7 linked regions of the Homo sapiens genome follow. The protein of the gene in region 2 purifies or fractionates together with the protein of the main gene of each other region. This does not show direct contact. Each region holds a gene or a part of one and is shown on either strand. Other genes may lie near its edges. The genes, in order: MMAB, HADH, RSU1, OAS1, OSBPL11, BPHL and PITPNA.

Evidence for each region.
Region 1: the proteins of HADH (region 2) and MMAB fractionate together in Homo sapiens (co-fractionation; one large-scale study listed by BioGRID). This does not show direct contact.
Region 3: the proteins of HADH (region 2) and RSU1 fractionate together in Homo sapiens (co-fractionation; one large-scale study listed by BioGRID). This does not show direct contact.
Region 4: the proteins of HADH (region 2) and OAS1 purify together in Homo sapiens (co-immunoprecipitation; one large-scale study listed by IntAct). This does not show direct contact.
Region 5: the proteins of HADH (region 2) and OSBPL11 purify together in Homo sapiens (co-immunoprecipitation; one large-scale study listed by IntAct). This does not show direct contact.
Region 6: the proteins of HADH (region 2) and BPHL fractionate together in Homo sapiens (co-fractionation; one large-scale study listed by BioGRID). This does not show direct contact.
Region 7: the proteins of HADH (region 2) and PITPNA fractionate together in Homo sapiens (co-fractionation; one large-scale study listed by BioGRID). This does not show direct contact.

The regions. Positions count from the first base shown.
Region 1 is NC_000012.12:109,560,005-109,563,504, reverse strand, and holds part of MMAB (corrinoid adenosyltransferase MMAB precursor), read left to right. Parts: intron 1-1,652; coding exon 1,653-1,725; intron 1,726-1,987; coding exon 1,988-2,085; intron 2,086-2,175; coding exon of another isoform or gene 2,176-2,262; intron 2,263-2,400; coding exon 2,401-2,465; intron 2,466-3,500. UniProt on the Homo sapiens protein: Converts cob(I)alamin to adenosylcobalamin (adenosylcob(III)alamin), a coenzyme for methylmalonyl-CoA mutase, therefore participates in the final step of the vitamin B12 conversion.
Region 2 is NC_000004.12:108,027,889-108,031,388, forward strand, and holds part of HADH (hydroxyacyl-coenzyme A dehydrogenase, mitochondrial isoform 2 precursor), read left to right. Parts: intron 1-50; exon of another isoform or gene 51-181; intron 182-3,500. UniProt on the Homo sapiens protein: Mitochondrial fatty acid beta-oxidation enzyme that catalyzes the third step of the beta-oxidation cycle for medium and short-chain 3-hydroxy fatty acyl-CoAs (C4 to C10).
Region 3 is NC_000010.11:16,593,925-16,597,424, reverse strand, and holds part of RSU1 (ras suppressor protein 1), read left to right. Parts: intron 1-3,500. UniProt on the Homo sapiens protein: Potentially plays a role in the Ras signal transduction pathway. Capable of suppressing v-Ras transformation in vitro.
Region 4 is NC_000012.12:112,905,683-112,909,761, forward strand, and holds the start of OAS1 (2'-5'-oligoadenylate synthase 1), read left to right. Parts: upstream 1-1,279; 5' UTR 1,280-1,357; coding exon 1,358-1,537; intron 1,538-2,853; coding exon 2,854-3,142; intron 3,143-4,079.
Region 5 is NC_000003.12:125,529,498-125,532,997, forward strand, and holds part of OSBPL11 (oxysterol-binding protein-related protein 11), read right to left. Parts: intron 2,518-3,500; coding exon 2,364-2,517; intron 1,084-2,363; coding exon 1,018-1,083; 3' UTR 1-1,017. UniProt on the Homo sapiens protein: Plays a role in regulating ADIPOQ and FABP4 levels in differentiating adipocytes and is also involved in regulation of adipocyte triglyceride storage. Weakly binds 25-hydroxycholesterol. Interacts with OSBPL9 to function as lipid transfer proteins.
Region 6 is NC_000006.12:3,149,711-3,151,894, forward strand, and holds part of BPHL (serine hydrolase BPHL isoform 1 precursor), read left to right. Parts: intron 1-312; coding exon of another isoform or gene 313-349; exon of another isoform or gene 350-434; intron 435-2,184. UniProt on the Homo sapiens protein: Specific alpha-amino acid ester serine hydrolase that prefers small, hydrophobic, and aromatic side chains and does not have a stringent requirement for the leaving group other than preferring a primary alcohol.
Region 7 is NC_000017.11:1,531,793-1,535,292, forward strand, and holds part of PITPNA (phosphatidylinositol transfer protein alpha isoform), read right to left. Parts: coding exon 3,390-3,500; intron 2,430-3,389; coding exon 2,307-2,429; intron 1-2,306. UniProt on the Homo sapiens protein: Catalyzes the transfer of phosphatidylinositol (PI) and phosphatidylcholine (PC) between membranes. Shows a preference for PI and PC containing shorter saturated or monosaturated acyl chains at the sn-1 and sn-2 positions.

The sequences.
Region 1 (3,500 bases), on a different chromosome or scaffold from region 2:
CCCAGCCTTGGCACTGTGAGGGCGGGGACAGTGTCTGGTTCACCTGGGAGCCCCGCCTGGCCTGGTAGCCGCTCGCAGGGCCTGTGGATGAGGCCGGGCAGCAATGCCACTGCTTTCCTCATATCACCCATTTCACCCTCACAGACACCCGTGAGGTGGAAGTTAATGTCCACAGCTTATAGGGAGCCAAACTGAGCCTCAGAAAGGCTGACTTGCCCAGCCCCCACAGCCAGGCATCAGTAGAGCTGGAATCTGATTCCCAAACTGGTGCCATTTCTCCCCAGCCCTTGGGGTACACGCTGCACGTGGCCAACCAAGTGGGTAGTATTATCACTCCCGCTTTGACTGTGAAAGTGCAGAGACCCCAAGCAGGGAAGCAGCTTGCCCAAGGTCTGCTGGTCAGAAGCCCTGGGAAGGTTCCAGCCCAGTGCTGGATGGGCAGCCTCTGCTCTCACACACCATGGCCTGCTTCTTGAATGCTGTCACAGTGGCCATCTTAGGAGAGGTCAGAAGTCGCAGACCTTCACCCTCCTGGTAGCCCACCATCCAGCTTGAGTGGACCCTGGCTGGGCACAAAGTCAGAGGTGGTACTTGTGGTCTTCACATGCATGAGAGCTGTTGGACATTTGTCATGCAGGGGCCTGGAGTCCTGCAGCAGACCTTAACAGACCACTTCTGTTCCAAGCAAACCCACTCCCCACCTGGACAGAGCACAGGCCTCACCCAGCCAGGCTTCCTGCTCCCAGAATCCCCACACGCCTCGGCTGACTACATTCTCCAAGCTCCTTGTCCTTTAGAGTTTAGAAAGCACTGTCACATTTGACCTCTTGGCCCAACTGTTACAGGTTAGAAAACCAAAGCTGTCAAATGTTGAGAAAAGAAGAAAACCTCACAGGGCCTAGGTGCACAGGAGACGTGGACAGAGCCCAGACGGTTCCTCTTGACTGTCCCTGGGTGTGTGATGCGTGTCATCTGCTTAACCCAGCTGCTGCCCCCATGGGAGCCTTTTCCTCCCTCAGACTGCAAAAGAGCCACACCAGGTCCCCCTCAGCAGGGCTGGGTGTCCAACGAAGATGTTGTGCTGAAAGTTCAGAGTTTGCTTTCAAATGTCAGCCAGTTCAAGGTCTGATAGCCTGTATTAGTCTGTTCTCGCACTGCTATAAAGAACTACCTGAGACCGGATAATTTATAAAGAAAAGAAGTTTAATCTGCACATGGTTTTGTGGGCTGTACAGGCTTCTGCTTCTGGGGAGGCCTCAGGAAACCTACAGTCATGGCGGAAGGCAAAGGGGAAGCAGGTACATCTTCACATGGCTGATAGGAGAGAGAGAGTGTGAAGAGGGAGGTGCTACACACTTTCAAACAACCACATCTCATGAGAACTCTATCACAAGACAGCACTAGGGGGCTGGGGCTAAACCATTCAAAACTACCCCAATGATCCAATCACCTCCCACCAGGCCCCACCTCCAACTCTGGGGATCACAATTTAACATGAGATTTGGATGGGGACACATTGCCAAACCATATCACAGCCCTTCATGAGCTAGCTGGCACAGGCTTTGCCGGCGTATTAGGTGGCGCCTCTGCACATTGTCTCTGTCCAGCCCATCTCACATAGATCTTGACTGTCACTTTCTGTCGCCCCCCAGATCCAGTGCACATTGCAGGACGTCGGCTCGGCCCTGGCGACACCATGCTCCTCGGCCCGGGAGGCTCACTTAAGTAATTCTCAAACTCCTGTGGGTGTTCAGAGGGCCCTAGGGTCAGGGGACTCTCCTAGGGTCACCATCTGGGATCCCAGGCCCCCAGGGACCCACGGGTGGGTCAGTTAGCCTTGCTCGTAGCTCCTGGGAGGGAAGGTACCTTCTGAGCCAGTGGAAGCAGTCTGCGGGACACCCAGGTGGAAGGGCGGCGGGGGTGGTTCCCGCCATGGTCTGGTGGGTGATGGCCTCATGGCAGTTCCCTCTGCTCCTTGGCTCCTCAGAGTATACCACGTTCAAGGCGGGGCCCATCCTGGAGCTGGAGCAGTGGATCGACAAGTACACCAGCCAGCTCCCACCACTCACGGCCTTCATCCTGCCTGTAGGTACTGGGCAGGCTTAACCGGGGGCGGCTGCAGGCAGGTTCAGTGACAGACACACATGGGCTCTGAATAAATCCCTCTTTTCACAGTGACAGACGCTGTCCTCCAGTTCCCCAAGTCCCTCCAGGTCCTCACCGGTCCCTCCCAGCCCTGCCCACTCTGGAGCAGCGTGCCCGGTGGGTGTGCCGTGGCAGGGCTCCTGGAGGCAGAACACTGCCCGGTTTGGGGGGCAGGGCTGGACTTCAGAGGAGCTCCTGTCCGCAGTGGGCACACCTTTCCCACCCTGCTCAGGCAATGTCCCTTTCTCCTTTCAGTCGGGAGGCAAGATCAGCTCGGCGCTGCATTTCTGCCGGGCCGTGTGCCGCCGGGCCGAGAGACGGTAAGAGGGCTGGAGAGAGGGAGAGGGCCCAAGGGAGAGGGAGAGGAACAAGGGGGAGGGGGGAGGGAGAGGGAGAGGAGGACGGAGATGGGGAGAGGGAGAGGGGCCTCTGCACAGCGGGCAGGAGGCAGGTACAGCAGGGCCATCTCTGAGCCATCCAGCCACACATCAACAGACCTTGTCTGGGCCCCTCCACTGTGCCAGACGGGGACCAGGACAGACCAAGTCCCTGTCCTCAGAGCACCATGTTGTGAAGTGGAGACAGTGACATGTGACCAAATAGACTATCAGACAACACAATTGCACCTTGTTTGTGAGCCCTGTATTCTGAGAACAGCAGGAAGTTATTGCTGGGTTCTCAGCCTCAGCCATCTTGGGGACAGGGGTAGACATGAAAGGACCCTGCTGGCTGCTGGGTGCATAAGGCTCCTGAAAGGCCTGCATGGCTGTGGGGAGCCCAGGTGGACGTTGTCAGCAGACTAGCCACCACCTCCTCCAAAGCTACTGACAGCCTTTTCAAGGAATCTTTAGAAGAAAATGAGCAAAGTCTCTATCTACACCACTCAGAGACCAGGCTGCCAGCCAGCTTTACAGAGAAGAGAAAGCAAGCCCTACTTTGATCCAATGGACTGGCACTTTATGTTCATAATTTCATTTACTCCTTGTTGATAGCCCTGGGAGAGAGGTGGTGGTGGCCTCTGTTTTACAGGAGTCAGGAAGCTGTGGCTCAGAGAAATGACACCATGGTCACGGTCCCCCACATGGTTGATAGCAGAATCCAGATTGGAGTCCACGTCTGTCTGGGCCAAGCCTGAGCTCTTCCACGGTCCCACACCACTAAGGTTTTGTTCTTTATGAAAGGCTCTCGGGCCCAGATAGCTCCTTAGAGATCCCAGGTAACAGAACAAGCTTTGGCTTCAAAAGAAAAAACTGTCATTTGTACAAAGCCATCCATCAGCAGTGCTCATAATAGCAAGAAACTGGAAACAACCCAAAGGCCCCGAAAACAGGCATGGCGGAGCAGCTGATAGGTCC
Region 2 (3,500 bases):
TGAGCTCAGCTGCACCCTGAGCCCTGGTACCTTTTTCACTGTTTTCCCAGGGCCTCCTGGCTTCCCTGTGGGCCTCTGAGAAAGGTTTCTGGAACTCCCACCACCCCCACTACAGTCCCAGCCAGAGCAATTGCATGGCCGGCCCAGATTGATATCCTGGATCTCTGCTTTTGATTAAAAGGTTTACTGCTTTTAAAAATAATCATAATGTAAAAATCACTAGGCTAGGAGATCTTGAAAGTTCCTTAAGGTTCTAAAACTTGTGACTGACAGGTGATTAGAAATATGTGACAAGGCCGATATGTGGTAAGGACAGTTTTTAGTAGTCTGTCCTTACTGAGTGATGTCATGATGTACTTTTTGTAACCTTAAGAATGGTGTAAACAGTTTTCCTCAGTACTTGATTGACAAAGAATGCTTTTCTCTGCTGTAGAAATATCAGATTTGGGACAGGGTCCAGGCCTCTAAATTGATCTGCATTCTCCTGCCTGCTTTCCCTCCCTGGTTTCTGGAAAGGTAGCTCTCATGTCTGCTTCAAAGGCAAACAAGCCTTAATAGGACTGGATAAAAAGCAAGTGTAATTGTTTTCAATTACTTCATTCATAAATGCTCACTCCTGAGAGTGTCATTTTTTAAACAAAACATTTACACCAGCTCTTCCAGAGAGATGAAAGCACATTTGCTTCCTCAAAATCTGCTTTAAATATTAAAACTTTTCTCTATGGTTTATGGAAGCAATTGCCTCACTTTTGCTCCAAGATCAAACCAACAGTTCTGGTTTATCTATCAACAAATATGCCTAATTACACCTCAAAGAAAGCACAGAGCATTTTACCCTACCTTGAAAGGCAGTTGTATGTCTTTTTTTTTTTTTTAACAAAATGTAATGTTTTAGAATGTAGCATGTGAGAGATCCACCTTTTAATGGTGTTTTCCTCACTGTCCATTTGATGCATTCTCCAATGCACCAAGTATCAGATGGTAAGTTGAAAGCCCTCTTCTTGTCTGTGGTCCCTTTCTGCATAGGTGCATGCCCTTTAGCCCTCACCATCCCTGGCCGCCTGTGGGCTGAAGCTGGAAGAGCAGGACCTGGCCTCAGGACATGCTCTTAGCTTGCTCTGGGCATGGGCTTCAACAGCCTATCATTGCTGGTCCCTCTGCTTCTTTTTCCACCACCTTCTCAGAATCTGCTTCTGAAGTTGCTGGGTGTCCTGCCTGGGGTGGGTGCTGCTTCCCTACTGCACACTACAGTCACACCCTAGGCCTCTTACCATGTCCCCCCGCCCACCACCTGCTCCCTCCTCTCAGCCAACACAGAGGAGTGCTCAGAGCATGCCCACCGTGCCATCTCCGTTCATACAGTTCCACCTTGAAGCTTCAAGCATCTGGAGGCTCCTTCTCGTCTGCCACATCTGTTCATCACTTTTGATTCCTTCCTGTCATGCCTGTTCCACCTCTTCATCCCACCTTTTCCCCATCCCAGTCAGGCTGCCTTCATGAGGTTCCTTAGGTAGCAGAGTAATTCACGCTACTCATGTCTTTTCCTGACTGGTCCCCGCTACTGCACTTACTGAGAAAGTATCATATTGTCCAGGAAGTTGAGACACCGCCTACTGCATCTGCCCACACACCCCCTGCACAGCCTCGGCAGGAGCTCTGTGACTGTTTCTGAACTCATGCAAGGAGAAATTTTCTGTACCCCACTGTTGATACACCTGGGGTTCCAGGCACATGGTTTGGCCAATGCTGCCTTGAGTGGTGCAGGCTCTCTGGAAGGATGTGTGTGCTGTTGTAGGTCAGGCCTCCTGGATGACCGGGCCTCTGCCACTAACACTTCTTGCCAGTCCCCATGGGATCTCGTGGAGGCTCACGCCCTTTTGCTCTGCTGTTTGTCCACTCATTTTGGCTTCCATGTTGGGCCTTCTTTCCCAGTATCCCAGCTCCGTCCTCACTCTTCCTATTGCTCTTGTTCGTTCACACTGTGACTGAGGCCTGATGCATGCCCCAGTCACTGTCACTCCTGTGAGTCAGAGGGACAGAGGCTGGATAGGCTGTGTCTGACAGTGGACTGCTGCCCTTGCCAGGCACCCACTCCTAATGGCCAGTGTGGGCAGGATGGTGGGGCCAAATGGTCAGCTCTTCTCAGGAGGGCTCTGCTGGCAACAGGCCTGGGAGCACCATGAGCCTGCCCCCCAGTCACCATGTGACATCTTGCTCACATTGTCGCCCCTGCTCAAGACAGGCTCAGTGGTTCTCTGGTTTCCTGCCATCTACAAGCTCTGCCAGAGAGCCTTCCTTCTGGCCAACCTCTGCCCCTGCTGTTATCACCGCCAACTACTCCTGCCATTCCCACGTTGCCCCACCTGAGTGTCTGCAGAGCTCCCAGCTGGACATCATCTCTGTCATCACAACTCTTCTTGCTTTGGCTCTCCCTTGGGTCACTTGTCACTGTCTTCCCTGTGGCATGGCAGGTGTTTTCTTTCCCTTACTATACTCTCTTTTCTGGGGCACTCTGGCTCCTCCTCATCTTCATATGTCCCAAGGTGCTGTGTAGGGCGGGCACATAGGCAGCTGCTGATGAGTAAAAATGCTGTTTCTGAGTTGTTGCTAAGTGCCTCTGTTGTTCATGCTAAGAATGGTTGGCAGGTGGTGCTGCTGAGCCAGACAAAGAAGCAGATGTTGGGCAAGTCCCAGCCCCTCAGCTGTGCTGATCTGGAGTTCACTGAGGAAGCTTTCCTTTGCTGTCTTGTCTGGAGTTAGGGGCTCTTAACTGGAGGGAGGTAGGAGAGGGTGTCCAATGAACCTCCTAAAGTTGACGCAGAATTTGGGTTATATGTGCATTTTTTATGGAAAGGGTGTCTGATTGTCAGAAGTACTTGATTCTAAAGAAGTTTAAGAATTATTAGTTTAAAACATGATTCCACATCTAACTGTCACTTGGCACACCAATCTCTGTATTTTGTTTCTCTGTTTCTGAAAGTTTGCCTCTTTTGCTCTGCATTATTGAGAACACGATCTTTAGAGTTGGGCTGACTTTGTAGAGTTATTTAGATATTTTTCTATCATGTGCTGTATCTTCATATTATTTCTTGAAATAAAACAGTCCTCAAGTGAGTCTCTGAATATGGAATTACAGCGTTGCTTCTAGGGTTAATTGTCCTGTCCTTGAATATAGATTTCATTAAATGGCTTTAGCTGAGTTGCAACCATTATGCTGTCAGATTTCTGTCCCAGGGAGACTGCCAGTAACAAATGAACCAGTACATAAGCATGTTAGGTTGTGATGAGTAATTGTGGAGAAGAAGATAGTAAGGGGTGGCAAGAGTCTTGTCCTAGTGTCCTGGCCTTTTCTTTAGTGCAGGGAGTTGCTTTTTTTATATATGCAGGGAGGAGAAGAGGCTGTCAGAAGTATGACACCTGAGCAGAGGCCTGGAGGAAGTGAGAGACTGAGCTCCGAAGCTGTCTGAGGGCAGCACCTAGGCACAGGGAGCATATCCCAA
Region 3 (3,500 bases), on a different chromosome or scaffold from region 2:
CACTGGCTCCCACCTGGCCCTTTGTAGTGACTTGTTCTGCAGCCCCAGGATGTTCAGACACACACAGTGGGATCTGAATATAAAAAGGCAGAGACTGAAACAGTGGAACATTCCAGTTCGCTCCGAAAAAGGAGAAGAGCCCTGCAGCTTTTGCAACCCCTTCTGAAATCGCTTGCCTGGATCCCCATCGTCAGGGCCAAGCTGAACACCCACCTCAGCCCTTCCCGCATTCAACACTTGACTCGAAGCAGGGCCTTGTCAATTCCTCTCAATTCCTACTGCTCCTCTCCCTCTGCTGACCTCTTATCATTGCCAAGACTCTTTCCTTACACTCGGGTATTGCTAGGTTTCCATGGGCATGAACAGTGGAGTCATCTTTCTGTCAACTTTTAGAATCCTTACAGTTTGGAGGCCAGGTGCGTGGCTCACGCCTGTAATCCCAGCCTTTCCAAGGTGGGTGGATCGTTTGAGGTCAGGAGTTTGAGACCAGCATGTCCAACGTGGCGAAACCCCCTCTCTACTAAAAATACAAAAATTAGGCAGGCATGGTGGTACACACTTGTAATTCCAGCTACTTGGGAGACTGAGGCACGAGAATCACTTGAACTCGGGAGGCAGAAGCTGCAGTGAACTGAGATACTGCCACTGCACTCCAGCCTGGGTGACAGAGCAAGACTCCATCTGAAAAAATAATAATAATAATCCTTAAAGTTTGAAACTATCTTTGAATAAAAATGTACATACGTATTTTTTTGCTCTGTGCGGATAAGGGGTTTGGGAAACAGAGGAAAGATCTCTGAGGCTGGAAGGAAGCTGTGTGTGTAGCTGAAGCTACCTAGGCCGTAGGTGCCTGTGTGAAGACACAGAGTCAGACCCTTGCTTCCTGCCAGGTGAGGGGAGCTTGGAGACCTGATGCCTCCAGGGTTTATTACTCTGCAGTGCTAAGCCCTTGAGCATTGAGTCAGTGGCCCTGAGTAGATCAACATCTGAGGACAAGGGCAGGTGCTGTTAGAGGAGTACGCATGTTTCGGAGCTTGGAGGATGAGGAATAGAATGGAGGGATCTACTTTGAGCATTTCCTCTGCCTATCTGTTGTGTCTGGGAGAGATGCCGAGGAGGAGGAACACGGGTTGAGTCCACATGGCTAATGCAGGGTGGTCCTTAACTTCGACACCTGCAGAGCCCCTTTTGTCATGTAAGGTAACATACTCCCAGGTTTCAGGACTTGAACACAGGTATCTTTGGAAATTGGGGGCAGCAACAGAGACAAGGTTGGACCCGCTGAACTTTACTCCCTATCTAAACCAGTGGTCTCCCACCTGGGACACAGGACCCAGGACCCCCAGGTGCCCATGGCCTCGTCTTCAGGGGGACCCGTGACCCTTTTAAAAGTGTAGGTTGGGGGAGCCCCTATAGGTTGAAAAATGCGCTTTCATGGAGCAGATTTTTTTTTTTCTGAGACAGAGTCTCACTCTGTTGCCAGGCTGGAGTGCAGTGGTGTGATCTTAGCTCACTGCACCCTCTGCCTCCCAGGTTCAAGTAATTCTGCTGCCTCAGCCTCCTGAGTAGCTGGGACTACAGGCATGCACCACTATGCGCAGCTAATTTTTTCTTTTTTTTAGTAGAGATGGGGTTTCACCATGTTGGCCAGGATGGTCTCCATCTCTTGACCTCGTGATCTGCCTGCCTTACCCTCCCGAAGTTCAGATTCTCTTAAGGAGTTGTTTCTTCTTCTGTGGCTTCAGAGGAGGCACAGCCGGGCTGGTCAGGACAGGGCTACTGTCTCCATTACACAAGCAAAAAGGCCTCCAAACTAATTCCTAGAGATGTGGAAAGCCAATTTGCAGGCTCTTATGTTCTCTGTCTAGGACATATGGAAACTTCTTGATGCAAAAGAATGGCCTCCCCTTTTCCTGGAGTGCAATCCCAGCACCTGGCTGGATGTGCACGCTCCGGCTCGTAGGTCTGTCTCTGGCCAGCTCTGAACCCTGTGTTCTACACTCCGTGAGAGTGACCGCCGATGGAACCTGCTTGTACCGCCTCCAAGGCAACACTTGGAAGACTGGAATAGTTAGAATACAGTATGGCCTTTCAAAACCATAGTGTCCAGCTTTCCTGGATCACAAAATCAACTGGGCAGTTCCATCTGCCAGCCCTTCCCCTCTGCCTGTCAGCCATGGTGGAGATGTCATCAAGAACACTAGTATTGGACGCCAGGCACAGTGGCTCATCCCTGTAATCCCACTTTGGGAGGCCAAGGCAGGAGGATTGCTTGGGGCCAGGAGTGTAACACCAGCCTGGGCAACCTAGTGAGACCCCATGTCTATTAAAATAATTTTTTTGTTGGGGCATGGTGGCTCACGCCTGAATCTCAGCACTTTGGGAGGCCAAGGTGGGTGGATCACTGGAAGTCAAGAGTTCAAGACCAGCCTGGCCAACATGGTGAAACCCCATTGCTACTAAAAATATGAAATTAGCTGGGCATGGTGGTGCATGCCTGTAAGCCCAGTTACTCAGGAGGCTGAGGCAGGAGAATTGCTTGAACCTGGGAGGCAGAGGTTGCAGTGAGCCAAGATCACACCACTGCACTCCAGCCTGGGCAACACAATAGGACTCCATCTCAAAAAAAAAAAAATATATATATATATGATATATAATAGATAATATAGTATATTTTATATGATATATATGATATATTATCTATATGTATCATATATTATCTATGATACATATAATATACAGATAATATATGATATAGATAATATATGATATATATCATATATATCATATTATCTATCATATATATCATATAATAGATATTATATATGATATATATATTTTTTTTAATTAGCTAGGCATGGTGGCATATATCTGTAGTCCAGCTACTCAGGAGGCTGAGCCATGAGATCGCTTGAGCCCAGGAGTTTGAGGCTGCAGTGAGCTATGATCATACACTGCCCTCCAGCCTGGGGAGCAGAGTGACAGAGTGAGACACTCAGGAAAAAAAAAAAAATGCCGGACGCCAGTATATGCTAAACAGCCCAAGATGCCAGCATCCAGAGAGTGTGCATATTCCTTGTGTGGATGCTGGAGCTGGGCCACCTGGTACAGGGACGTCAGGCTCTGTGCCAACCCTCATTCACAGCAACTGCGGGCTGTGGAGCCGGGTATGCCCTTGCTGCAGAGGACCTGAGACACCCACCAGGCTCTCTTGGAGACACAGTTATATCAATAAAAGGAGTTAAGTTTGAGCTGTATTTATTTTAGGGTGGCTTTTAATTTGGTTTAATCAGAATTACTCATAAATTATCGATTAATTACCTTCTGCTGTTCAGTTAAATCCTCTCAGCCACGGAGCCAGCTTCGCTGCGCAATGAATGCCATCCACCGTAATTATAGGGCACTTTGTCAGCATTTAATCAGCGGTACTTATTAATGTGGCATTGATGTGTGGTGGCCAGCCCCACGCTATCCATCATGGGTGAGCAGCCAGCACAGAT
Region 4 (4,079 bases), on a different chromosome or scaffold from region 2:
AGCAGGGTTACAGTTCTGTGACTGTCCCTGCAGAGCAGGGCCACCCCATAGGCAGTGCCTGGAGAGCAGCAGCTCAGGGCACTTCTATAGTCACATTCATACCCACTTTTAAATACGTGCAAATTAAGGGCAGGTTATTCAGAAATTTCTAGAAGAAGGGTGGTAACTGGGTCATTGCCAGGGAATGAGTAAACTGTTCATGGTGCTGGTGCTCATGCCAGCCAGTCTTCAATCTGGCCCTGAGTCAAGCCCCACCTCCTATCTCAAAACTATTCTGCATGGTGCTGTAATGGTGGATACATGACATGTTATGTTTGGCAAAATCCATAGAACTGTAGGACACAAGAGTGAACCTTAATGTAAACCTTAATGTAAATGGACTTTTGTTAATTATGATGTATTAATATCAATTCATCAATTGTAACAAATGTATCACAGTACTGTTAATAATAGAGGAACTTATTGGCAGGAGAGAGAGCTTATGGAACTCTCTGCACATTCAGCTCAATATTTCTGTAAGCCTAAAACTGCTGTGAGAAATAAAATCCAACCTGGGCAACATAGCAAGACCTTGTCTCTACAAAAAATAAAAAATGAGCTGGGTGCAGTAACGCATGCCTGTAGTCCCAGGTATTCAGGAGGCTGGGGCAGGAGGATCCCTTGAACCCAGGAAGTTGAGGTTGCACGAGTCATGATCATGCCCCTGCACTCCAGCCTGGATAACAAAGCAAGATCCTGTCTCCAAAAAATAATAAAATAAAATAAAAATCTACTAATTGAAAGGGAAAAAAGCATAGTATAATACCATTCTTAACAAAAAGAAAAGAGACCTGTGTTTGTGTGTGTGTTAACATTTGAAAAAAATCTGGAAAGCTCTATATCAAAACGTTTATAGAGGCAATTTTGTAGTGTTAGAATCATAGATGATCTTTCCACTTCCTGGTTTTTCTGACTTTTTTTCTTTTTGCAGTGGGCATGTATTGCTGGAAAATACCACAGACAACTGTGAAAGGATTTCATCAACAACAAAAAAAAGATAAAGAAGGAAACACAAAATCTGTTAAATAAGATTTATGTTGGCTGGAGGTTAAAATGCATTTCCAGAGCAGAGTTCAGAGAAAGGCTGGGCTGCTTGTTGCTGGCTAAAGGACAAAGGGTAAGTTTCAGGAAGCAGAAGAGTGAGCAGATGAAATTCAGCACTGGGATCAGGGGAGTGTCTGATTTGCAAAAGGAAAGTGCAAAGACAGCTCCTCCCTTCTGAGGAAACGAAACCAACAGCAGTCCAAGCTCAGTCAGCAGAAGAGATAAAAGCAAACAGGTCTGGGAGGCAGTTCTGTTGCCACTCTCTCTCCTGTCAATGATGGATCTCAGAAATACCCCAGCCAAATCTCTGGACAAGTTCATTGAAGACTATCTCTTGCCAGACACGTGTTTCCGCATGCAAATCAACCATGCCATTGACATCATCTGTGGGTTCCTGAAGGAAAGGTGCTTCCGAGGTAGCTCCTACCCTGTGTGTGTGTCCAAGGTGGTAAAGGTGAGTCCAGGCCTGCCTGGCCAGGGGAGGGGTGGCTGAATGTGCAAGAGTTGAGATTGAGAATGAGAGAGAGAGAGAGAGAGAAGCAAAAACCTAGAACCCAGGGTGCAAATGTGAGTACAGAGAGCTGAGATCTTCTGGGATGGTGGTTTCTTATTTATCCACACAGCATGTTAAAATAGATTCTGGGGTGAAATCCTACATCCCTATTATTAACAAGTGACCCTCCCCCCTACTTCCCGCTGAAGTTTATGAACCACTGTCCTGGGCGATGCCCATTTCAGAAATAGGGAACTGAATCCCAGCTCTGGTAAACAGTTTGCTAATTCGTGGCCAGGCTAGGGGCTCACCATTTCTGCAGTGAAGAATCATATGTTTTGAAAGCAAATAGCACCTGCTGGCTGCAAGACCTTGAGCAAGTCACTTAACTACTCTGTGTTCCAATTTCCTCAGCCATAATCCCCAATACTGTTGCAGTCTTGCCAGTGCACCTTAATGTAGCAGCTTCTCACTGAATTAGTACCCAAGGTTCTTTGTCCTGCATCCAAGAAAATTAAGGAACATGGACACAAACGTGAGCTTGGAGCAAAAGTTCAGTAAGCAAAAGAAGAAAGCTGTCTCCACTGTGGAGAGGGAAGTCTGAGTGGATTGCCAGATTGCAGCTGAATGCAAAAAACTTTTATAAGAAACCACTCTCCTCCCTGTAACTGTTTGAGAAACTTTTTATCAGTAAAGCTGTGCAACTTCCCTTACCTTATGCAGCTGTGGGTATATCTCTAGGCAAGCATAAAGCGCTGCTTCTCTTGTATGTATAACTGTGGATTTGTTTTAGGTAAGTCCCACTCCCTGCGCCAGTTTCAGGCAGGCCGCTCCTCCAGGGCCCAGCCTTGACCATTTACCTAACTGATTTTTCCTCTACTTTCCCTCAATACCTCATAGGGCCGTGTAGATTAAGTAAAATAGTAAGTGTGAACCACCCAGCATAAGCTAGTCCTGGGCATCGTAAAGGACAATGGGAAAAGAACACAGATCCTGGAAGAAGGCCCCCAGGTTTGAATTGTATTTGCCACCTACTAGCTGGGTGATGGGGCTGATATATTATCTCACTGAGCATCCATTTTCCCATCTGTAAAATGGGAACTAATGATAATGGCATCCAAATCATAGCATCATTGTGAGCATTATAGGAGTTTAAGACATGCAATGCCTTCAGAACAGTGGCTAGTGCTCCATAATGTTAGTGATTGCTCCTGTCATTTTATTTAGGGAGGTTTGCCTCACTAAGCATCAATTATTATTTTTGTCGTCTTTTTCAGGGTGGCTCCTCAGGCAAGGGCACCACCCTCAGAGGCCGATCTGACGCTGACCTGGTTGTCTTCCTCAGTCCTCTCACCACTTTTCAGGATCAGTTAAATCGCCGGGGAGAGTTCATCCAGGAAATTAGGAGACAGCTGGAAGCCTGTCAAAGAGAGAGAGCATTTTCCGTGAAGTTTGAGGTCCAGGCTCCACGCTGGGGCAACCCCCGTGCGCTCAGCTTCGTACTGAGTTCGCTCCAGCTCGGGGAGGGGGTGGAGTTCGATGTGCTGCCTGCCTTTGATGCCCTGGGTGAGAGCTCCCAGCTTCTTTTTCTCCCTCTTCCCATTTCTGAGCAGAAATCTCCCACAGTTTGAGAGCTTTTTGCCCCAACAGGGCATCTCTCTAAAGCAGGGTGGGAGGAGATCTTAGGATCTGTCCCGGGGCAAGAATGAATACGGTCATGATCTATCACAGGAGAGACATTAAACAGCAAATTGGCATAATGTGGGGACAAAGACATTTCTTACAGAACATCTGCAAGGCTTACTGGTTCTGTTTAAGGCAAAATGTGTGAATTTTATCTTTCTAAAATCAGGCAGCAAAGATGTGGCTTAAAGTTCATGTTACTCTCATCTTTGTCCCAACATGAGATCTCATCAAACGTATGCAGCACGTTGGGAGATAGATATTTATAATTTGCAGGAACATTTGGACAGGAAGTGTAACCTCTCAGAGGCTCCCTTGCCACATCAGGAGAATTGGTAAAACCACACTACCTGTATCATATCATTATTTTAAGTGATAAATGATCATCTACATTCAGCTCTGATGAGTAATAGGTGTTCAAAAATAGGAACTTCCAGCCAAGTGTGGTGGCTCATGCTTGTAATTCCAACACTTTTGGAGGCTGAGGCAGGAGGGTCGCTTGAGCCCAGGAGTTCAAGACCAGCCTGGGCAGCAAAGTGAAACCTCATCTCTACTAAAAATTTTAAAACATTAGCCAAGTGTGGTGGTACATGCCTGTGGTCGCAGTTATTCAGGACGCTGAGACTGAACGATCACATGAGGCCAGCCAAGGATTCGAGGTGTCAGTGAGCCACGAATGTACCACTGCACTCCATCCTAGGCACAGAGCAAGAGCAAGACCCTGTCTCAATCAATCAGTCAATCAGTCAAAACTATGAATTTCCCAGCTGTATATGAAGGCACCTCAAAACACCACAGTGAACTCACAGAGGGACACGGA
Region 5 (3,500 bases), on a different chromosome or scaffold from region 2:
CACATATAAGTTTTGAATTACTGACAAATATGAATAGAATCATTTATTTTAATTTTTAACAGAGGTAAAATAAAGCATACTTATCCAAAGGGATAACACATAATACTGGATATTAACCTAAAGGTGAAAAGAAAGAAGGAAAAAAGTAACAGTTTTATTTTTTAATATTTGCTATTTTCTTTAATGCCTTAGTTCTGGAGAAAGGCTAAAATCTCATCATATTGACATTAACACATTTTTAAAAAGTGTCTCTCAAGTGTAATATTTAATAAAACTAGGTACTGAAAAATGTTCTGAAATTTTTCAAGTCAATGTTGTTTTCAAGTATATTAAAATGCTCAGAAGAAAAAATTCTCCATGGTTATAATTCTGATCAATCTATAAATGTACTTTTTAAAAGAGAGTTCCAACAGAGGTGGATAATAGGTAAGTTCCTCAGACACAGGCATACAGTCTTTTTGAAGAAATAGAATGCCTTGTTACCACAACCTGGTTGATTTTTTTTTTTAAACACTGATTTCAGGCACAATGGCTGAATCCACTTCTGGGTCATCTTTCTCCTCCTCTTGGTTGGTTTACAAGAGTAGTGAATACTTCAGTTATGGACAGAAAGAAAGACACAAACTCTGAAACGGAGACTTCACTTTTCACTACAAAGAAATCAAAGTCACTGAGTTCTCATTGTTGTGTGTATCTGCTGCCCCTGTGCAAAAATAGGGGATTCAAACTTAACTTTAGGAGCAAGAACTGGATAAAAGATTCATCTACTGATTCAGGTAACAAGTTTTAAGATGGTATTGCTCACATCACATGAACAGGTTGGTAAAAGGTCCACTGTGTTTCTTTACCACTTTGGTCTTGCTGCAGTATTATGGTGCCCTAGTAGGTACATTCAGGTTTAGCTAGTTTCAGTCTGCGCAATCAGGAAGCAGGTCACTCAGTGCAATGACTCCATTCTGGGAGGATTTAGGGTAAACAGAGAAGAACCTCATTTGGTCGAGTTTTAGATAGTATGTGTCACTCTGCTGGTTGTGTTGTTGGAATTATTTTCCAAAGTGGTTTATGATAAACCCAGCCATCTCCCTGAAACAAATAAAAAGATAAAGAATCATCCCTCTAATATTATCAAAATCAGTAACCAAAACTAGAAGCAACACCTTCACTGAAATGGAATTCTATTTTCACATTCAAAAACAAGTTTTTGTGAAGGAATAAAGTCTTTGTGATTAAGACATCAAACGATGCCTGTGGTTTAGCTAGGATTTAGGTGAGAAGACATGGTATGGGAGGATCTAGTTTGTGACCCATGAACATTTAATTTTGCAAGAACCATTTGTAGCAATTTTGCCAATTTCGCCAAGATGCTACAGATTGAGCCTCACTCACAGAGTTATGGGCAGCAGGTGGAGTACAGAGAAATGATCGGGAAGGTACTAACTGTTCTCCCTGTCTCCACTGGCACCCCAGAACTCATTTTTTTTCTTTCCTTTTTTTTTTCCCCCAAGACGGAGTCTTGCTCTGTCAGCCAGGCTGGAGTGCAGTGGCACAATCTTGGCTCACTGCAACCTCCGCCTCCCTGGTTTAAGCAATTCTCCTGTCTCAGCCTCCCAAGTAGCTGGGATTACAGGCACGTGCCATACCCGGCTAATTTTTGTATTTTTAGTAGAGATGGGGGTTTCACCATGTTGGCCAGGCTGGTCTGAAACTCCTGACCTCATGATCCGCCCGCCTCGGCCTCCCAAAGTGCTGGGATTACAGACGTGAGCCACCGCGCCAGGCCCCCCAGCTCATTTTTCTTTTTTTTTTTTTTGGAGACAGAGTTTCACTCTTGTTGCCCAGGCTGGAGTGCAATGGCGCAATCTTGGCTCACTGCAACCTCCGCCTCCTGGGTTCAAGCAATTCTCCTGTCTCAGCCTCCCGAGTAGCTGGGATTACAGGCATGTACCACCACACCTGGCTAATGTTGTATTTTTAGTAGAGACTGGGTTTCTCCATGTTGGTCAGGCTGGTCTCGAACTCCTGACCTCAGGTGATCCGCCTGCCTCGGCCTCGCAAAGTACTGGGATTACAGGCATGAGCCACCGAGCCCGGCCACCCCCTAGCTCATTTTTAATGATATATAGATGTTCTCACTTAGAAACTCTTCTTTCTTAGAATCTGTTCTTGGTATATCTGCCTTTTTTTTGAGACAGAGTCTTGCTATAGGTTACCCAGGCTGGTCTCAAAAACAGTTGGTATTTATATACAGCCATACTACTTTTAAAAATAAAGATGTATAAGTGATAGCAATTCAACAAAGCCTAGTAAGCTAAAGTTCTCAGCCAAGTAGATACATTTTTATCTTGAACACATGTACAGCATACCTCTTTAATAAAATATTTGGTTTTCCAAGGTGTGCCTGTTTCAGTACGATGCCTTTCTTCAGTCCTCTGACGTTCTTCCAGGGTATGCTTATGCTCTGTGGCCTTATCAATTTCAGATTCTCTCAGCGAGTCTGTCACATTTTTCCACAATCGCCTGAAATCCAAAAACCACACATTTTACAAGCATTCTTTAAAAGAGATAATTAAATAGAATCAATACCCTCAAAATTACAATAATTTTATAAAATAACGTTTCCTAAATCACATCTACAATGTCATGCTTATGAATTCCAAGAATAACGATACTGTGCTGCTGATGGTTATGTCCAGGATGCTGCTCCTTCTGCTTCTTTTTAAATTAAAAATAATTTGTATTTTTCCAGGTTATAAAAGCAGGATTTTTTGTTTTTAGAAAACTTAGAAATTAACGAGTAAAAAGAGAAGTAAATTTTCAAAGTTGAAATGTAAGCAAGACTAATTGTGCTTCTGGACATGATGAAATAATGGGGAACACATTTATTTTCCTGCCTTCATCAACCAGGAAACCAGGCAACATATAATACAATAGTGGTTTTCAGATACTGAGCAAAAGGCAGTGCAGGGCAGTGATCCTTGAGAAAGGAAACAAATGAGGGGAGTCCTATGAGTGCTCTAACTCGCTGTCCAGAGTGTTTCTAGGCCACGCACAGGGAGAGGGAAGCTTAACAAATCTCAAGCAAAAAAAAAAAAAAACAAAAAAAAACTGCCACAACACTTCTTTAGGGAAAGAACTGTTTGTTGAACAAATGGTGCTGGGACAACTGGATATACATGTGAAAAAAATGTAGTAAGTTAAACATAAAACTACCATAAACCCAGCAATTCCACTCCTGGGTATTTACCCAAGAAAAATGAAAATAAATGTCCATACAAAGACTTGTAGGAGAATGTTCACAGCAGTATTATGGATAGGCAAAATGTGATATATCCATACAGTGCAATACTATTCAGCAATAAAAAGCAATGAACCACTGATACATGCAATTAATACTTCATGGATGAACCTCAAAAACGTTATACTAAGGAAATAAGCCAGGCATAAGAGATCACACATTGTATGATTTATATGAAATATCCAGAAAAGGCAAATTTATAGAG
Region 6 (2,184 bases), on a different chromosome or scaffold from region 2:
CAACCTCCGCCTACTGGGTTCAAGTGATTCTGCCTCAGCCTCCCGAGTAGCTGGGATTATAGGCGCGCATCACCACGCCGGCTAATTTTTGTGTTTTTGGTAGAGATGGAGTTTCACCACATTGACCAGGCTGGTCTCGAACTCCTGACCTCAAGTGATCCACCTGCCTCGGCCTCCCAAAATGCTGGGATTACAGGCGTGAGCCACCGTGCCCAGTCTAGTACCTTTTTCTTAGGTGGGGCTTTCTAGAAGAAGCAGAATGAAAAAGGAAAATATTTAGTTTCTGAATAAAAAGGGGCTATTGGCAACCAGGTTTGGATGGCGTCAGAAGGAATGCCTGAAGAAGTGATATGCCATGTTGCTGCCCAGTTTCACACTGGAAGAGATCCTGTGCAAAGATCCAGCGGCCTGCTTTGGGTTCCAGTAAACACAAAAGTACGTACTGGCACTCTGCGGATTACAGACTCACTGACAACTTCATGGATTCATAGATCAAGTTTTGTTACATTGATCCAAGGTGAAGGCACGCCACAGCAGGTTACTTGTGGCCTTGTTACTGTCTGTAACTCCCTGAGTTACAGATGAAAGTTCAGCTAAAGATGAAAAGGGCTCCAGGCGGGGCAGGAAAGGTAGCATCGTGAGGCCAGCATCTCACCTATGGCATTTTGACCTAAAAGAGCTGTATCAACAGAGGTAAAGTGACCCATACATTTACCTTGGGGTTAGACAGCTTCTAGTTCCTTGGACTATCTGGAACCATGTCTCTTTCTGAAGGTGCCACATGCAGTGAGGAACCTGCCCTGGCAGAGGAACTCGTGTTCATCCTCTGAGGCCCCTTCGTTTCCAACTGAGCCATGTGCTTAGCAGTTGGGGGTTTCCTACTAATTTTTCGGAGAATGTTATTGTTTGAAAAGTGCTCTCCACAGAGCATGTGATTAGATCTTTTTGTTACTTGGGTGAGAATCTAGAGCTCCTGTCTTGCCTTGACAGCTAATATTCATGCCCATCTATTGTGGTCCTGTTTCCAAAGAGGAACACACAACAGAGTTTCTGTGCAGTGAAACCTGTGTCAGACCTAAAGGAGGCAAGGGCTGCTGAGGAGCTTGAAATGACCCTTAAAAGATATCAAGGAGAAGAGTTGTCTTCATACTCTCTTCTATCTGTCTGTCCATCTGTCTATTCATCCATTCATCCATCCAGCATTCAGAGCAGGTCTCCCATATTTTAATGAAGGGAACCTCATTTTTATTTCCCCAAGATCTAGAGATTAGGAAGAGTGCAGACAGTGCTGAACGGCTAAAAAGAAACGATTCACAGCGAGGTTCTCCTTCCTTCCTTATGGGAAACCAACAAATCATAGCCAGATAGGCTGGACTGTCTACAGAGAAAGACTTCACATGTGGCAGGCTGGGGATTCCCTGCCTCCCAGTCCAGCTTAGTGCAGATTAGGGGATGCAATTTAGCCTATACGTGACCTTCTATGACCTCGCAGCATCCTTGGCAATTCGTTCTTTCCTGTTTCCTGAAAACAAAGGCCTTGAGTGTCCCTGCAAGCCCTGTTCCTTGTGTAGGCAACTGGGATCCTATCTCTGGGGTGGGTGCAACTCATCCTTCTTTTCTGAATAGTGTTAAAGTTGAATTTAGAATGTCGTGATTGTTAGTAATAGCATTACTAATGTTCCAAGGCCCTCGGAAAGGTCCCAACAATATGTCTTCCTTTCAAGTTGATTCTCTTGGTACCCCATTCCCACCCCCAATGTGGTGGCTGAGTTGGAAGAGGCCCAGCATCTTCCAAGCACAGCTCCCTGCCCCACAGTTCCTCCCTCGCACCTACTGAGGTTCTGAGCTGTCAGCCCCCCAGTATTGAAACTCAAAAAATTAGGGAACATGATAACGCATTCTGCCCTAATATTGTCCTTTTAATGTCTAATTATCATTGTAGACAAAGTGGCTTGAACTTAGGCTTTCATCCTAGAAGCTTTACCACTTTTACTGTTTCTATACTTTTGTAGCTAATAAGTCAAATGTAGAACAAAGAGAAGGCTGCATTTGTTCAGGAAACTGTAAATCTGTCCCATTTGATCACAATCCTGTTGAAAGGAAGAAGCCTTACGAGGACAGTGTGTTTGCTACAATGCTGAGCCGTGACAGCTGCAGCAGCGGCTCCTGGAGCACAGGGCTGCT
Region 7 (3,500 bases), on a different chromosome or scaffold from region 2:
TGCTGAGTTTTAAAACTACAAAATATAACTTTGATGAAACATATATTTTTAGATAGACAAAAAAATAAAAAGGCAAGCCACATCAAGCGTAGTCAGCACACAAAGGTCCTGCACAGTTGCTGAAGAGACCACAACATGTACCACAATGAGGTGGACTTGCTTTCTCTCCCACTGCAGATGAGTTTTAAAATTCTAATTCCAAAGAGAGTTTCTTCTATTTGCAGTTATCCTGGAGGACAGTGATCACCTAAGCTTTTGGCATGATTCTCCATGGAATGGAGAAAGATTTTCTTTTCTTTTTCTTTTTTTCCTTGAGACGGAGTCTTGCTCTGTCGCCCAGGCTGGAGTGCAATGGCATGATCTCTGCTCACTGCAACCTCTGCCTCCTGGGTTCAAGCGATTCTCCTGCCTCAGCCTCCTGAGCAGCTGGGATTACAGGTGTCCGCCACCACGCCTGGCTAATTTTTTTTATTTTTAGTAGAGACAGGGTTTCACCATGTTGGCCAAGTTGGTCTCAGACTCCTGACCTCGTGATCTGCCCACCTTAGCCTCCCAAAGTGCTGGGATTACAGGTGTGAGCCACCGTGCCTGGCCGAGAAAGATTTTCAAAAGGGTCTGAGAGATTAAAAAATAACTCTCTAACACTGAGGGCTCTCAAAGTTTGGATCTGAACAAAGCAGATCCAGTAGATCCTCTGGAGAGTTCTTCTAGCTCCAAGAATTTGAGTTCTACCCGAAGGAATGAAAGGTGGACAGCAAATACTTCCACGAACCCCAACATACGTCATGCTGGCCTTTGTCAGGCAGTGGATGGCTGAAGCTCCAGGCTAAAACTCCAATGAAAGTCTCCATGTTTCCTCATTTGTTAACATTTTCCCTTTCTTTTTGTCAGGACTAGGGTGACCAAAAGCCTCAGGCTTCTCTTACACAGTCACAATCACCAGACCCCTGGACACTGAGGTCTACCCCTTCCTAAAGATCCTTAGCGAAAGAATCAGGGACTGTGCCCCAATGAAATCCTGCCACTTCCCTGCTAAATGTAGCTAAATGAATAACCAAAACATCTGTCTTCAAGAGGAACCAACTCAGTGCACCACTTACCAGTGAGTCAGCCCAGGAAAAGTGTCATTCTGGATGGTAAAAACAGTTCCCTGCGGGGTTCCAGAGGAAGAACTTCTGGACCCAATTTTCGCCCTAGACCAGCATGGTGAAGCAGACACCGTCCGTGCAGCATGGGCAGCATGGGCGCCCAAGCCTGGCTCTCACCTGAGGCCCTGCAGGAGAGCTGAGTGGGCTGTTGCAAAGCAATGCCTCTACTGGATACCCAAACTCCATGCCAACCCCACCTGGGGCAAGGAGGGAGAAGTGATGGCAGTTCTTATGAAACAGAGCTTCCTGCCTTATCATATTTTTAGCTCCAAGATGGCAGGAGGGCCCAAAATTGCATTTAGAGGGAGGAGTACAGGGGAGTGATTAAGAGCTGTGGTTCCAGGGCCAGAGAGTCCTGGGCTCTTACTCTGACCATATCACCTGCAAGACGGTGTGACCCAGAGCACCGCAGCATTGAGCTCTCAGAGCCTCCACTTCCTCATCTGAGGGTAGGGAGAGCAGCAGCGCCTCCTCATGGGGTATCGTGAAGACTGCAGTAGGTAAAGGCCCTCAGAATGGTAGACGGCACACAGTGAGTGCTTGAATGTTACTAACTGACAATCTCCTCTGAGTGGGCCTCTCAAGGAAGCATCAGCATCTCCAAATGAGGCATGAGAAGTGCTGGGTCTTTAGGCTCCTAAGGAACAGGGAACCCTCCTTCTGCGATCCACGCCAAGACCAAAAAAAGAAAAGCAAAAGCTCTCAACTCTGATAGCTCAAAATGACCGTAGACAGCCGCCAGCTGTCAGCTCCTGCGTGCGCTGTGGCTGTCCTCTGTGGGTAATGTGCATGGTATTCACAGGTCAGCCCAGCCTGCCTCCTCCCAGGGTCACCTCCAGCTCTGCAGCCCCGCACGCTCTTTCCCACCAGGCTCTGAAGCATCGCTGTAGCAGCTGTATTACCCACTTGGCATTCGGCACATACTGCCATTTTTGTCTCTGTGGGTATGCCAAGACTTCAACTCAACTGTCAATTCAAGAGCACAGGCTGTTTTCTTCCGTATAGTGCCCACGTACTGCCCAGGATACCGTCCCTGTAGCAGACACTGACGTGTTCCCAGAACTACAGGATGGTGCTCTCGGTGAAGCGCCCCAGCAAAACAGTCTCCTTAATCTTCGTTTGTTTATCTAATTGAGAGCCCCCAGAGCCCCCACTTACTTCATCCAGCTGTCTCTTCGTCTCTTCTTCCATCCTTCGAATGTCGTCCATGGTCAGGTCAACCCACTTATCGAGCCAACAGAACAGCTGCCTGTGGAAGTTTGTAAACAGACGCCTCTCTTGCTATAGAAAGGAGGGAACCACGTTAGAACGCAGAAGGCAAAGGCTGCTGCCACAGCCCTTCTCTCCATGCACTCCACACGAATACCCACACTAGACTGGGGACGGGCGGACAGGAGGAGGAGTAATGCCCGGCTGGTTATCTGGACCAGCCATGGGTCAATGACCTTTGCCTTCACGTGTCTAACAGGTATGGCTTCACATAGGAGGGAGCCCCCAAGAAAGAAGGATGCCTACCTCACACTAGGCCCTCTGCCCAAAGCACCAGCAAGACAGCAGCCCATGAACTCCTAGGCAAGCCAAGGGCCCCAAACCACTGCCACATTTCTTCCTGTCTCTGGTGTCTAATGCCAGATTAAAACTGGCCAGCAGCTATGAAATATGGCCCAAGTGAGGCTCAAACATGTCGGAGGATTAAAAGGCTCTAAAACTCCTTAGACCTGCCCAGCAGAGTAATTCAGGGCACCGGCCAACCTGGCTCCCAGCACCTCTTGCCTTTCAGCTGCAAGAAAAGAAAGACTGAGTTTTATCTGTAGGTCAGTCATAGCAAGTCCCTTCCTGTGGCCTTCTTTTGCCTCAGTTTCCTTCCCTGTCACATGTGGTGTCCCTGGAAGGACAGCATTAAACCGTAAGACATTTCAGTGCAAGGGAAGGTGGGCAGCTGGGAAGCCGCCAAACTGTGAGGTATGCTCATGTTGGCAACCCTGTCATGCAGGCCACATGGGCTGGGCCATCTTCTTCACTGGGCCAAACACCCCCCACCGCACACACACGCAGTCACTGGGAAGGCCTCAGCCGAGCTACTTACCTTATGGATGAAGTTCTCCACCACCCCCCACCGCACACACACGCAGTCACTGGGAAGGCCTCAGCCGAGCTACTCACCTTATGGATGAAGTTCTCCACCACCCCCCCACAACACACACACGCAGTCACTGGGAAGGCCTCAGCCGAGCTACTTACCTTATGGATGAAGTTCTCCACTTTGTTCTGCAGGCCCCACCACTTGAACTTGACGGTCACCAGTTTGTATGCACACATATATGGGCAGTCCTTCTGGTTTACAAGCTCTTG